Regions from separate parts of the Homo sapiens genome. Here all the other regions are reported to be linked to region 1. The links are microRNA targets in miRTarBase. Many come from high-throughput screens and were not tested one by one. Region 1 holds a microRNA gene; each other region holds the end of a gene's coding sequence.

Region 1 (5,059 bases):
AATGTTTGTGTCCCCCCAAAATTTAAATGTTGAAACATAATTCATATTGTGCTAGTACTAAGAGGTGGAGCTTTTGGAGGTGTTTAGATAATGAAGGCTCCACTCTTATCAATAGAATTACTGCCCTTACAAAAGAGGTATGAGGAAGCTTATTGATACGGTTTGGCTGTGTCCCCACCCAAATCTTATCTTGAATTATAGTTCCCATAATTCCCACGTTGTGAGAGGGAGCTGGTGGGAGGTAATTGAATAATGGGGGCAGGTCTTTCCCCTGCTGTTCTCATGATAGTGAATAAGTCTCACAAGATCTGATGGTTTTATAAAGGGAATTTCCCCTGCACACGTGCTCTTGCATGCCACCATGTAAGATGTGACTTTGCTCCTCCTTGCTTTTGGTCATGATCGTGAGGCCTCCCCAGCCATGTGGAACTGTGAGTTCTCTCTTCTTTATAAATTACCCAGTCTCAGTTATGTCTTTATTCGCAGCATGAAAATGAACTAATACACTTATTCATTCCTCTAGCCATGTGAGGACACACAGAAGGTGATATCTATGAAAAACAGTCCCTCACCAGATGTGGGACCAGCTAGAACCTTTATTTTGGACTTCCCAACCTCCAGAACTGTGAACAATAAATCTGTTTATAAATTACCCACTCTAAGGTATTTTGCTATAACAGCCTGAATAGATGAAGTCACTTATAAGAAATGAGATATTTTAGACTTGAAAAATGATGATTCTCTCTGTGCTAAGCTTCTACATATCTCTAAAAAATTTTTCAATGTTATATAGGTTAATGTTTTATTCTTAATTTTGTTTATGATAATCATGTAGCATCATGATAGTCACTGTAGCATTATTAAATATAAAGCAGAATACAGTGTAGTTAGTGAAATAGCAAAACAGCTTAAAGTATGCTCAAATTTGAATCCATGTGAAACATGAAACAAATGAGTTGATGTTTTCGCTAAATCCTTACATACATACAGAATTATTTATTGACTTTTAGGTTCTCTAGATCTCTACTGTTGTTCATGGAGATAGATAATGTTAGCTGCTTTTCATATATAAAGAGACTTGAAGTTAAATGTGTCAAATCAACAAAAATGTACCAAATGTATATATATATACTTGTCATTTGGCGTTAAAACATTGAAACATGGATAATATGAAAATACGATTGCATATTAAGTTTCTATTAAATATATTTACATTCTAGTAGGAAAATTATTGAAGGGCCTGACAAGAGATTCTCTCTGAACCCAAGGAGTTTAAAATTGAAGCTGAGGAGAAAAGACAAACAGAAACAAATCTGCACCGAATCCTTCCAGTACCAATGTTAGATACATATTTCTATAACAAGTCAATTCCTACACAAATAACAGATTTAAGAACAAGAAAACCATTATCTTATTATTTATTTGTTTATTTTACTTTAAGTTCTGGGATACATGTACAGAACGTGCACGTTGGTTACATAGGTCTTCATGTGCCATGGTGGTTTGCTGCACCCATCAACCCATCATCTAGGTTTTAAGCCCCACATGCATTAGGTATTTGTCCTAATGCTCTCCCTCCCCTTTCCCCCCACCCCCTGACAGGCCCTGGCATGTGATGTTCCCCTCCCTGTGTCCATGTGTTCTCACTGCTCAACCCCCACTTATGAGTGAGAATATGCAGTGTTTGGTTTTCTGTTCCTGTGTTAGTTTGCTGAGAATAAAACCATTTTTTTATTAAGGAGAAAGAAATGGGCTAATTTGGGGAGGTGGTGGCTGTTAAGGTGAAGGTAACCAAGATCAGCATCAGAAAGCCTAAATCTTCAATTTGTGTTTTCTGTACTACAGAGAAGAGAATTTCAGCATGAAGATTACTTGAGAAAGCATAAAAAGGTAAAACAGCTGGAAACAACAATACAGATAATACAAAAATGATTATTATGTGATATGGTGTGAATGTACCCCCCAAAAATTCATATGTTGAAACTTAATCACTAATGTGATAGTTTTTAGAGGTGGGAACTTTAGGATGTGATTAAGTCATGAGGGTGGAGCCCTCATGAATGAGATTAGTTCCTTTATAAAACAGGTGTGAGGGAGCTGCCTACCGCCCTTTTACCCTTCTGTCCTTCTTGCCATGTGAGGATACAGCATCTCTTTCTTCTTGAGGATGCAACAGCAAGGTACCATCATGGAAGCAGAAAGCAGCTCTCACCAGAAACAAAACCTCTGGGTTCCTTGATCTTGGACTCCCCAGCCTCCACAAATGTGAGAAATAAATTTCTACTGTTTATAAATTACCCAGTCTGTGGTATTTTGTTGTAGCTGCACAGAGGGGCTAAGACATTACGTGCCAAGCACTACTTTGAATGTTTAACATATTAACTCATTTAATCCTTGCAACAGCTATTAGGTTGGTGCAAAAGTAACTGTGGTTTTCGCCAATTACTTTTGTACCAACCTAATATATGAAAGGTGGGCTAATGTTATCTCTATCACATATGTGATGAAAGAAACACGGAGAGCTTCAGTGAACTGGCCTAGGTCTTAAAACTTAAAAGTCACAGAATTGGTCACAGAACTGGGCAGTCTGTGTCCAGAATCAGCACTCTCCAATGTTATGCTATCTTTCTTCAAAAGCTGAACAAGGAGAAGAATGCACCCATTCAAATTATAACCCGAGGTACCCAAAGATGAAAAAATGGCAAATATTTCAGTTTCAGAGGAGGAAACTATGTTATGAAATACTCCAGAAAACAACATATATTTAAGTGTATCATGCCCTTTAAATAAGGAGCGATATAATAATACAAAATGTGTACAGGAGAAATGTGGCCACCAACTAATCAGAATGGACTCTAGCTAGACTGGTGCAATCAGCTGAATATCAGCCTTCTTCAAACTATGGGAGAACAAGCTATTAGAGTACTGAGTTTAAATAGTAAATATTTCTATTTTGTCTTTATTGTAATGAACAAGCCCTGTCTTTAGCTCCTGCTGTGCACTTTTGGAGGGTCTTCCATATGGTTGCTCCTAAGTATTTTGGCATTTTCCCAACTGTTACAATTGGGTCAGTGGGGGGGATTGTATAGGAGTAATAAAACAAGGGTGACTGCAGCAGGGAGGAGTACGATTACTACACACATAACAGCTTATTGCCTCTCATGCGTTCAAGCACAGCTCTATGCCATTCATTACAACAGACAGCCAGGGCAAACTGCCATAGAGCTCACTCCAGAAAAGGCCCGGTCTTGAGTGCAGAGACTAAATCTTCTCACTTACATGTCTTCCTAATGTTTCCTTACTTCATCTTCCCATATCGAGAATAACTTGAGGAGAAGCAAAACAATTATATCTTGCATATTACTACGTCATTCTTAAGAAAGTTTTCTTGAACAGACTCTCAGCTAACTTTTAGCAGCAGCAGCAGCATTATCAGTGGCTATGAGGGCTTGGATATCTCAGGAGGGGAAAAATGGGAAAGGCTGGCCTGATTATCATAAATAATAATCCTTGAGACATGATTCATAAATCCAGAAGTGGCTAATAATATTGACATTATTGTTATAGTGTCAATATTATTAGCCACTTCTGGATTTCTTCCATATCAGAGATAATATTTATGAAAAAAAAAATGCTACCATTATTTTTATCCTGTGGAAGGCAGTGTTGCTTTAAACAGTAGAGACTATATACAGGTACGCACGCATAGGTTGTATTTTCCATTTTATACATGCAAGGATTCTTTAAATAATTCATTACATTTTTTCTTTAACATGATATGCAGTTTTTCACAAAAAGCCCAAATAAACGGCTGTGAGGAATTCTAATAGGATCACCGTATAGCCATGACACTTTATGATTCATGATTTACAAGAAATTAAGAAATAGAGCTGGAGACATTTAGACCAGCCTACAAATTTGTGTGTGTGTGTGTGTGTGTGTGTGTGTGTGTGTGTTTTAATGTTTCCAGGCAAGAACCTTAAACAAAAAGTGTAGCATTAAAAAACTTCCCTTCGTCCTCGAGACCCCCCCAACTCTAGACACTGGATCCCCGGAGACCCACGCTGGGTCGTCGGAGTCTGGAGCCGGGGGCGGCAGGTGAGCGGCTAGGGTCCTGCAGGGGTCTGCGCGGTGCGGGGGAGGTCGCCGAGTCAGTCAGTGCCGAAAGGACCGCGAACTCCAGGGGCCAACAATCACCGGGTACGGAACTCAACGTTTCCGCCAGTTCCTGGATTACTCGAGTAAAAACAAACAAACAACAACAACAACAACAACAAAAATACTAACAGCAATGGGACCGTAATAAATCAACTCGGAGTGGGTACAGGCGGTTCCGGGACAACCCACACTTAGTCTAGGAGCCCGGAGATCCCTCATCCAGCTTTCCCCGGGGCAAGGGGTGAAGCGCTAAGCAAGGCTGATCACTGTCCTCAATCATCACCCAACCCGCGCACAGAAGCCGTGGCCCCACGCTCTCCTATCCCCGCCAGCTCCAGACTCGCCCCGCTGCCAACTCCCGGTGCAGGAGGAACTGGCAGCCGCAGACGTGAGGAAAGCGGCCGCGGCTTCAAACTCCGTAGTGCGCAGGCGCCACACAACGCGCAGGCGCCGCCTAGAAGTGACTTCTCCAAAAAGTGTGTTAGTTCCCGGTCACCTGAGCTCCGGGTGACGCGGCTGCGGTAGCTGCGGATACAAGCCTTCCGCGGGTCCTGCCTGGCGACCCCGACCTCCTCCTGCTGTCTCTCCGCTCCGCCACCCCGAACCCGCCAAGGTCCTGTCCTTTTCCTCCTGTCCTTTGCCAGCGTTGGGCCGGACCGGGCCGAGCCGGGCCGCCCGGGCGCAGTCTTTAACCATGGCGTCCCTCTTCAAGAAGAAAACCGTGGATGGTGAGTTCCAGGCCGGGCTGAAGGGGCCCAGCTCTGCGTTTTCTCGGCGTCTTTCGAGGCCTGCTGGCCGCGATTCTGCCTACTGTCCCTGGAGGCGGGGCTGGATCAAGTGGTCCCACAGGTGACCGCCCTCGCGGCACCACTTCTCTGCCTCCCTCTTGCTTCTGACTCAC
Region 2 (5,065 bases), not on the chromosome of region 1:
GCTGGCTCAGGTGTGACAGGCAGCACTGAGTTGGGAGGGTGGAGCTGCCTGCTCTGCAGAGAACTCAGGCTGGATGGCCTGCTGGAGGTGGAGTTTGACATGCTCCAGGAAGTGACTGGAGCTTAATTTCCCCAGGCAGGAGGCAGCTCAGTCCCTCTCCAAGAGACTCTTGGGGTCTCTGGTTAGCACTCTTGTTCCCAAACCCAGCGCCCTGGTTATCACTGGGCTGTTTGTGAAAAATAGACACCGGAGCTATTTCCAACAAGACCTCTAGGTGAAGCTGGCACAGCTGGCCCAGAGACCAGCTGGCAAGTGCAAATCAGGGAAGAGTCTCCTCCAGCTGTGGAAAAGGCCTGAAACTAGCCACCCTTCAAGTCCCACCTTCCCTGCGGCTCTTAAGCTGAAGCCTAGAAATCTCTGCTTCAGTGTTTCATCTGGGATCAAAGATGTTTCTCTCTTTATATATATTTTCTAATTATACTTTAAGTTCTACGGTACATGTGCACAACGTGCAGGTTTGTTACATGTGTATACATGTGCCATATTGGTGTGCTGCACCCATTAACTCGTCATTTACATTAGGTATTTCTCCTAATGCTATCCCTCCCCCATGCCCCCTGCCCCCCGACATGCCCCGGTGTGTGATGTTCCCCGCCCTGTGTCTAAGTGTTCTCATTGTTCAATTCCCACCTATGAGTGAGAACATGTGGTGTTTGGTTTTCTGTCCTTGCGATAGTTTGCTCAGAATGATGGTTTCCAGCTTCATCCATGTCCCTACAAAGGACATGAACTCATCAAAGATGTTTTTAATCTCTCCTGACCACCCTCATTAATTCGCCAAACACCAAGAGCCTGGTGGGTGCCAGACCTGTGCTAGGCCCAGAAACGCAAAGGTGACAGAGGTGAGGCGGGCCCATCCACATCCTGGAGAAATTCAGTCTCATGACTCCCTGTGGCTTTGGCCCAGGCTCGCTTCCTGGGTCAGTGTACAGTGTCCAGGTACAGACAGGCATATGGGCAGGGGGTTATAAATAAGGACAGGCCAAACAACAAGTCTACGTATCCTTCAGCGACCAGATATACAGGCTTTAGCATTCTCTTTGGCCATCGTAGGCCTTAGGCTGCAGATGGATGTGATGTTCGCTCTTCTGTGGACCACAACCATCAAGGTGGCTGAGACAGGCACAGTCTCCAGGAAGAGTGAGGATCTCGGGGGCCGTGAACTGTGGGAGGGAGAGAATTTCTGTCCCTCAACTAAGATTCAGTCATCTCCACTCTTCCCAAGGCCTAGAGTCACAGGCTGAAAAATACAACATCCAAAAAAGATGTGATTCAACTCCAAAATGAACCGAATGGGCAAGTTCAGACCAGAAACTCCCCCCAAAAAAGGAATGTGTGACTGCCAGTGACCAGGCCCCAAAGAAGGGCCTGTTTCTGCTTTATTTGGATTGTGAAGCCAAGACTTGGCCTGGGCTCTAAGAAATGAGAGTCTGGCAGTTGGTGATAGCTGTGAATGTATGCAGGGGACCTGCGGATCCATACAAGAGGAGAGGGCACAGAGCTAGCTGGGGGCAGAACCAGGCTGGGGCTCTAGCTCCTGACTGATGTGTCTTTCTGGCTGTACCATCCTCTTCTGGAAGTCATCGGCCCCACTGCACAATAAAGTCATTGCCCCTAGTGCCAGATGGGACAGAGACAACAAGGACTACATTTTCTCTTTGGAGTTGGCCAAAGTGAACCAACACTTCTCCACTTCCCAAACACCTCTGCGTCCCTCCATCCCAATTCCTTCATCATGGGCTGCAGGAAGAGGCACCAGGTGCTACTACATGATGGGGGAAAACACTTGGATCTCCCAGACGCCAGTGTGTCCCGCAGAATTCTGTAATGATGGATGTGTTCCGTATCTGTGCTGCTGACTCATCAGCCATGACCACACTGGCTGTACCACGTGGCATTTGTAATGCAAGTATTATATTCATTTTTTCTTGGTCACTAATTGGCTTATTCTTCTAAGTTCTTTGCTAAACTACTATCTTTTCATTGTTATTTTCATCAAACTCCACGGGAGGGAGAAATAAGAGACCCAGATAGGCTTGGTTTCTTGCTTTATTAGGTTTATTATAAGGAGCAGTGATGAGATCTTTATCAGTCCTCACTACAAAGCTTTCATCTCCAGCCTTCTCCATAGCTCTGTGGAGGGCAGAGAGTTGAGGGAAGGAAGAATGGAGCTTGGGAGCATGGGATCATGTATGTATACCAGGAAAGAAAACACACATTCTTTATTCTATTGCTTCAAAGACAGTTTGTGAGAATGGAAGATAACAAGCACAGCTGGCCAGGAAGGCAGGGCACACATGGCAGGTCAAGTTCCTGCTATCCAGGGAGGTGGCCCAGAGCTTCCCTGCTGCTCCTGGAGGAAGCAGAGTCCAAGCTGGCCCAGATGAGGCCCCGGGCAGCACTGCTTCTGTGTGGGTATGGCCAGTCGGGACGTGGCGCCACACACTGCTCCTCCGAACTCTGGTGAAGGGCTGCCCAGCCTCACAGGCCTGAGCAGAGTCTCCCACATCTGCGAATGGGGCCAATGGCACTCACTGTCTCTTCAGGCCCCCACGGACGGCATGCCTGGGGAAGCCTAGTCTACTTACCATCAGCACGTTGATCTGTCACACAGCATGGAGCCATAGTTTACAAAGGACCACGGCAGGTCAAGGACAGGCCACTAAAACTGTTGGTGCTGGGCACCATCACCCACCCTCACCACCATCAAAGACACTGGTGCAGTGAGACTTCGAGTCTGCAAAAACCCCGGGGAGGACAGGAGGCAGGGCCACTCTCCCTGTGTGTCATCAGCCTGCAGTGCCTGAAACTCCAGCCTGTGCACCTCTGGCAGGATGCCCCACACTGCTCCACAGGTTTGGCGGTGAGTTATTTTTAAACCAGCGTCCTGCTGTTCTTGCCCCCCGCGTCCCCTCTGCTGTGCCTAAACACCTCTCAGGAACACTTGGCAGCACGCCATTGTCAGTTCCAGGTCCACTCATCCCCTGCGTGTTGCCGGGACCCACCTTCCTGCGCTATCCCAGCACAACTCTCCAACCACACCATTGCTGAACAAAGCTGGGGAGTGACGGCCAGGGCAGGCTGTAAGGCAAGTGAATGGAAACTGGCTGGAAAAAGAGAAAGGGCCCAGAGCACAAAATCGCCACGCACAAAGACTAAGCCAGCCTGCCTGAGTGTCTGGTGAGCGAAGACGGAGCAGGCACCTCTGTGGGAACATGTATCTAGGGATCACGCATACCCCAGACAGGGCAGGCCCATCCTCAGGAGCTGCAGTCACACTCAGCCCGGCCTGAGGCAAGGGATGCAGGGCCTTGCCTAGGCAGAGAATGATGCTCTCCGAGGCATCTAGGCATGGAGTGTATGGCCAAAGAGGGTCTATTTACAACATACCTGACAATCAACTAGCACTGTATTCCTAGAACTGAGACCCCTTGCTTCTCATCTTACCTTGCTTAAATATTAGTTATTCCCAGAGTCAGGGAAGTGGGAGAGAAAGCCTGGGTAGGGCAGTGAGGGAAGTGATAAATGGTGAGAAAGAAAAGGAGACTGAAAACTAACAGGGCGGCTACCGAGGGGTGCAGGGCACAGTTACCATGGAGACGTAAAACACTACACAGAATGCGAGCCATCGGGTCCATGCGGCCAGAAGCTTGAGTGCTGTTCTCTCATGGAACTCTCCAGTGAGCCATGCTGAGCGGTCCTTGTGAAGTCATGTACTTAATAGAAAAGCCCTTGATGAACAACCCCATGGTTACAAACACTTGTGACAAGTTTCCTTGTTCAGGTGACTGGTGTGCAAAGGCAAGATGGTGCACATCCTCCTGACCAAGCAGGTACTGAATTCTCTGGAATTGCCCACAACATAATGGTATAAGGTATAACTAATCTCTTTTCCCATTAAAAAGCTGGCAATGCCAGACCATGAGTCTAATTAATTCAGAGTTGTTCCAGGGCACAAGATAGCCAGTAATGTCCAAATGGGGAGCCTTGTGGTGGTGGCAGCCAGGATTCCTAAGGCCAGGTGCTCCTTCACCTCTCTGGGAGAGCCAAGCTGTCCATCCGCTGGATCCCCAGGATGCTGGGCTCAAGTGTCAGCTGGGTTTACCTCTTTGGAACAGAAGTAATGGACGACCACTCCATTGGGGTATCTTGCAAATGCACTGCAGGGAAGAAAATGGCTTGGGAGTGAGGACTGCTTCTAAGTGACCACTTCTCTGGCAGCGGCACCTCCTACAGAAGAGGCACATTGCTGGGGGGCCATTCCAAAAGCAGCCCACCCAAACCTCAAAGAACAGCCTGCCTGAGGGGCTCTGGATTTCTGTAGCCATCATCTCTGTCAAATAACCAAACAGAGGATGAGGTGCACACAGTTAAGAGTGCATGGGGTATTTTTTTATTATGCAAAACACAAGGCATATTAAAGATGGGCAGTGCACCAGCCCAAAGCTCAGCCCTGGCTTCCTGAGAGCCAACAATGTTCATCAGAACAGGTTTCAGGCTAATTCTGAAAAGGACGGCGAGTTTGTCTTTCTAAAGAAAAATATTTTTCCAGCTACATAAGAGACAAATCACTCTCCTTTGAAGAAAAGGGGACTAACTAGAGTATATGTCTTAACACAGTATGAGTCTGGCTCAGGATCCTACTTGAGTCACAATGCAGTAGCTTGAAAGATCTTTTTCTTCCTTCACTGGATCTTCCTTATAAGAACTTTCTGCAGACCTACATCTCTTGGGCACCCACTATATCAGGTTCTAGCTTCAAGAGGGGAAGAGTTTTATGGACAAGAATCCAACAGCTCCATACCATACATTGCAGGTCTTTAAATTCTCGAAGCCCACTCCCAACAGATAGAACAGGCTGCTCTCTGAAGGCTCAAGAACTAAAAGTTGTCAGGACAGCCAGCAGCCATGTTCTCCTTCTCTGTTAAAGGGCAGAAATCCATCCTGAGCGTTCTCCACCCCTGGGAACCTCCACAAAGCCCAGATGCCACACAGGTGTGAAGGA
Region 3 (5,065 bases), not on the chromosome of region 1:
TCTTCTGCCTTTCTCCCCCTTCCCTGCCCCCTCCAAAATACTAGGCTGTACACCCTGGCATTTAATGTGTGATCTTGACCCATGCACTGAATTTAGGTGAGTTAATTAATAACAATATTTTCAGGAAAATGCAATCGTTGTTTTTCAGTTTATTTGTTAATATATCTTTCTTCAAAAGAACATTTTGGGCCAGGCAGTGGCTCATGTCTGTAACCCCAGCACTTTAAGAGGCCAAGGCGGGAGGATCACTTGAGGCTAGGAGTTAGAAAGTAGCCTGAGCAACATAGCAAGACTCCTGTCTTTATTAAGTAAATGAAATAAGAACATTTTGTAATGCAATAAAATTGTGTCCTAATATAGCCTCACCATTAGATTTCATACTTCTCACCTTCTATTGCCCTCAGCTACTCAGCACAGAAGCCTGACATTGGGGTGGGACCATTAGGCTGGGATTGGTTAGTGGCTGAGCCCAAGTTCACCCATCCTTCCCCTGCCTCTAACAGGACTTTGCCAATACCATTCCTGGCCATGGAGGCATCATGGATCGCTTTGACTGCCAGTATCTGATGGCCACCTTTGTCAATGTATACATCGCCAGTTTTATCAGGTATAGTACCTTTCCATCTGAACCAAGTTGGTGGATTTTTAAGTACGGTGCAATTCTAGAATTTTAGCGGCATCTAAGTTCCAGTGAAAAGCATCCCAAATAATGCAGTTTTCAGTTGTTTCTGCTTACAGATTTTCTGAGGCCTCCTGTCATCTGTTAATAGATAACTCTCTGATCCAGAGATCAGAGCAGCCACTCAGATAATCAGGCCCTGGAAGCTTCCGGGCCCTAGCTCAGTGCTGTTTCTTCACATTCTGTTCCAGAGGCCCTAACCCAAGCAAACTGATTCAGCAGTTCCTGACTTTACGGCCAGATCAGCAGCTCCACATCTTCAACACGCTGCGGTCTCATCTGATCGACAAAGGGATGCTGACATCCACCACAGAGGACGAGTAGGGGCCACCCAGGGCCAGGAGAACAGGAACAGAACTGAGCAGGGGCAGGTCTCCAAGGCAAGCCCAGCTGGTGTGACTTAGACAATGACGAGGCTTCAACTCACTGTCTTTTTTTTTTTTTTTTGGAGGGTATTTTTTATTTGTGGGTTCAAAAAATCTGTATATACAGTCTATGTGTTTAGAATTTGTGTTGTAAGTAAACTACAGCTTTGAGTTGGAAAGAAGTCACGGGTTGTAAAACCATTTGGATTTTTTTAAAACAAAAGTATTAATAATCTGGAAGACAGTGTTGCCCAGGTCAGGAGTGTTTTCTTGGTGGTTCCAGCCCCCATCAATTGAACTGTTTCTGGGCTCAGTCAGACACAGACATTCATCTGTGTCTGACCAAATCAGGGGACTTCCCCACCTGTGGTGGGAGGCACAGCTTAGATGTTTTGTACACCTGGTCTTTTCTAGAAATCCCTGCTTGGAGCTGCAGAAGGGTTGCCTTCTGTAGGTCGGAGGAATGGAGGCTTACTAACCAGGTAAGCCTTCTATGCATCCACACCAAAATCCTGCAGAATGTAAGTAAGCTCTGCTTTATAAGATGGGTTCACCTTCATCGCAGACTGAAAGTTTCAGTTTTTATTTTTTTCAGAAAGCACGAAAAATTATTTATAATAGTCTGGAGAAAAAACACACTGTAATATTTCAAGTGTATGCAGTAGAATGTACTGTAACTGAGCCCTTTCCCACATGTCTAGGCTCCAATGTCTCCTGTAGGTCCACCTAACTGTGTGTTTTCAGGGACAATGCCATCCATGTTTGTGCTGTAGACTTGCTGCTGCTGAATCCTTTCTGGGGACTTTCTCATCGGGCAGGGAGCAGAGGGCTTCTCGTTCATGCACCCTTTGCCTGAACACCCATGTAGCTGCTGTGTTGTGTATATATTACTCTTAAGAGGAGTGTGTGTGTCTGTGTTTGTTTTAAAAGTCACTTATTTCTTACAGTGATTTCAATTGCACCATGACTTCTTCACTAAAACCACAAAGTCCTGCTTAAAACTATGGAAAACCTAACCTGATTAGAGCCTTGACTATTTTGAAGATTAAATGCACACTTTTTATATAATGTGACCAGTTTAAATGTAGTTTGTATTGTACTGGGGGACCTTTCGTTGTTGTTGTTTGCTTAAACTGTGATTTTTTTTCCCCTCCCTAATTTCAGGGGTGAGATTGACTTTGGGAAGACAGATTAGTTCTTTGTCAGGCCAACAAGTGATGGAGTGCGGGAGAGAGAACTTGGCACCCAAATATATCAAACTATTCCGTGCCGTGGATGTTTTCATTGCCAACGAGGGTGTAATGATTTGCTTCTGCACCTTGGTCTAGTGCTGGTTTGTGGTGTTTTTGTTTGTAAATTAGCCTCACTGCCTCCCTGAAAGTGCACAGTCAGCCCAGGTCTCTAGAGTGTCCAGCAGAGGATGGAGCCCTCGGGATGTTTCAGCTCACACATCCTTGAGTGACTTCCCATATGTGTGTGGGGCTGAAGCGGCTTCTTTCCGCTGAACTTTTATTTCCATTTCAGCCTCGTGGCTTCTCTTATTCAGGTCCAAGGCCCCTTAAAAACAAAACATATTATCGCAAGGGCTTTCATTTCAGTATTGGCTGTGTCACTGGCAGGATGCATCACTCTCCAGGGCCTCTTTTTCGGAGCTACTCCCAATTCCACTCTTCTGTGATTCTGGCTGAGCAAGTTCATGCCGGTAGAGGCTCATTAAGTGAGGTCCTGGGCACCCCCCAAACAGGAAGTGTTTTCAGGCCCTTACATGCTTATCCTTAAGGTGAGTAGGTATCTCAGCAGCACACCCGAACAGTAAAGGTGATCAATAACGAAACTGTAGTTTTCAGATTGAAGAATGAACCTGGATCACCAAACTAGATACCGAAAGGGCTCCTCATTTGTCTCTTTTGTCCCATTGTGGGCATATGGTGGGCTCCTTGAGAGGAGGGAGTCTCAGCTGGGGCCTGGCTGCAGAGACCTGCTCTTGAATAGGGCTGCCTTTGGGATCAGGGAGCCGAGCATACTGGGCAAGGCTCATCATGTTCCTTTGTGGAAGTGGTTACTTGGTGGGGGTGGGGTGGGGAAGGGGGGTCTAGGAAGCCGAAGCTGAGTGCGCACTAGAGCTGCTAGCAGGCAGGCCAGAGGGTCAGCTTGTGTTTTATTTTCTGATTTCTCCTGCATGCTTTCTGGAGATGAGGATTTTTTGTCAGGTAGCTAGGAGAGCACTGCCACCTTGTGTCCATATAGCACAATGTTTCTCTTTCCTATTCACAGACAAGATTCAAGAAACCATTTTTACGTGTGTACATTCAAATCTTCATGAATGGCATCACTTGCTTTAGACCCATTTTTTTTTTATTGGTCAGAAATAAAATGTGACTGCAACTGTGTGCCCTCCCTTGTCGTGAATTCCCTGTTTATCACTTCCATGCATGGTTTTATGCTTCTCATTTGTTTATGTATTCATGAATACTGCATAGTCCTGATTCAGAGACTTTTGCTTTGCTTTCCAACTTGTATCCCTACATTCTCACAACAGCCTTCTTACCTCGGGTGAGAGTCATGAGCACCTTACCAGGCAGGGAGCTTCCCCAGGATAGTGTGGTGGAGTCAGGACTCACTCCATCCTGCACTTTACCCACAGGACACCTGGAGGGTCCCCCAGCCCTGCTTGCTTTTGTGAACGTCGTGTGAGTACACCGAGGTGTTGCAGCTTTCCTTCCCTCTAGCTCAGGAGGCCTGGCCTGAGCCAGGTTGGAGCTTAAATTGCTGTTGGCTCCTGCCTGGTGGAACAAGGGGGTCATAGAAACCAGGGCTGATGGGCACCCCCCAGCCCCTGGGAGCTCTGCTCATGACCGCTCACAGGGTACCGAGTCTTTGCCTTTTGTGTGTGCGCATGCTGCCCTCTTAACTGCTTTTAGTATTCAGAAAGGTTCCATTTATGTTTTACTCCTGAAAGTGAAACCCTCTTAGGCAACTTGTTTCATATTCTGGGCATTTTAGTAGCTACAGTATTTTGCATTTAAAATGTAATTACTCTTAGTATTGTACAGCCCTATAATGTATGAGAACTAGTTTCACATCCTTTGAAACTAATCTCTTTCATTGGGGAGGATACAACTTTTGACTTTACACAGGTGGACTTTGAATCCATTTTTATAGAATTTTTTTCCACTGTAACTTGACCTATATTATGCAAGAAAATCCCAAAAATATGTTTTAAGGGAGACTACACAGACCTTGTGATTTGGTCTGAGCTAGTTGCTGAGTTGACTGGAGCCTTATTTGAATGGATCTTTGAGTTGAGATCTTCACACTGTCAGTGAGCCCTTGGCTCAGCCCTTGTCACCTGTTTGTATGGGGACCATGTTTCCCAAAGCTCAGGTTCATCTCCACTATTGACAGAGTCGGGTAGTGGGAGAGTATAAGTGACTTGAGACAGAGTGTCCTTGCTCAGAAAACTGTGAAGCAGGGGTCTTGTTAGTTACAAAGCCAGTCCTAGTTGCATGTCCAAGGGGGTAGATTTTCATCACCCTACTAAATGTGGTATGTCACTGCTGAAGCCTTTTCCTGTTTTAGTAATATCTTAGGCACTATTGTCTTTTGTCTTCCAGAGTAACATATCTGGGCCCACCTTTCTTGCACACTGTGATTATGTGCTAAGAAAAGGGTGGAGTTGGGAGGACAATTTCACTTGAACAGGTTTCTGTTCTTCTGAGGTCAGGGTGGGGAGGATGTCCAGGTGACTTTTATGGACACATTGCAAGACAGTAAGCCGCGGATGGACTCTCACTTGTGCTTTGGAACACTGGACTCCAAAGAGCAGGTGGAACAAACTCTGGCCTGAAGATGATGGCTAATACTCAGGCAGAGCCCCGTATTCTTCCCTGACTTGGTCAAAACAAACTTCCTTTTCCCTTGATCACCCTGCACGCAGCTGCCCAGCTTCCAGTTTTTAAAGAGATGAACAGCTCTCACTTCCTGACTCAGTTTCTCTTGTTGGGTGGGGGCCTTGTGCCAC

What was found. Region 1 holds the annotated microRNA hsa-miR-4795-5p (AGAAGUGGCUAAUAAUAUUGA, at 3,570-3,590, opposite strand). A microRNA usually pairs through its seed, bases 2 to 8, with sites in the 3' UTR of a target mRNA and lowers its output. Matches are read on the target gene's strand: a 7mer-m8 pairs with bases 2 to 8, a 7mer-A1 pairs with bases 2 to 7 and ends in A, and an 8mer does both.
Region 2: the mRNA of VPS39 is a reported target of hsa-miR-4795-5p. Seed matches in the 3' UTR shown: 7mer-m8 at 3,541-3,547.
Region 3: miRTarBase lists CDS2 as a target of hsa-miR-4795-5p. The part of its 3' UTR that is shown has no 7-base or 8-base seed match.

What each region holds. Positions count from the first base shown.
Region 1 is chr3:87,222,671-87,227,729 of GRCh38, forward strand. MIR4795 (microRNA 4795) reads right to left here and starts at 3,607; the gene lies at 3,519-3,607. It overlaps CHMP2B (charged multivesicular body protein 2B), which reads left to right and starts at 4,639. Exons shown (of 6, transcript NM_014043.4): 1 at 4,639-4,886. The coding sequence starts at 4,853. RefSeq lists enhancers at 4,091-4,230, 4,341-4,400, 4,491-4,540, 4,591-4,660, 4,731-4,850.
Region 2 is chr15:42,156,610-42,161,674 of GRCh38, forward strand. It overlaps VPS39 (VPS39 subunit of HOPS complex), which reads right to left. Exons shown (of 25, transcript NM_015289.5): 25 at 2,092-4,220. The coding sequence ends at 4,145. It overlaps PLA2G4F (phospholipase A2 group IVF), which reads right to left and starts at 27. Exons shown (of 20, transcript NM_213600.4): 1 at 1-27. RefSeq lists enhancers at 1-467, 2,758-3,257.
Region 3 is chr20:5,189,232-5,194,296 of GRCh38, forward strand. CDS2 (CDP-diacylglycerol synthase 2) reads left to right here. Exons shown (of 13, transcript NM_003818.4): 12 at 504-607; 13 at 871-5,065. The coding sequence ends at 1,003. Among named protein-coding and RNA genes, the nearest start is that of CDS2, 65 kb to the left of the region's middle. RefSeq lists a silencer at 1,319-1,388 and enhancers at 2,957-3,046, 3,820-3,869.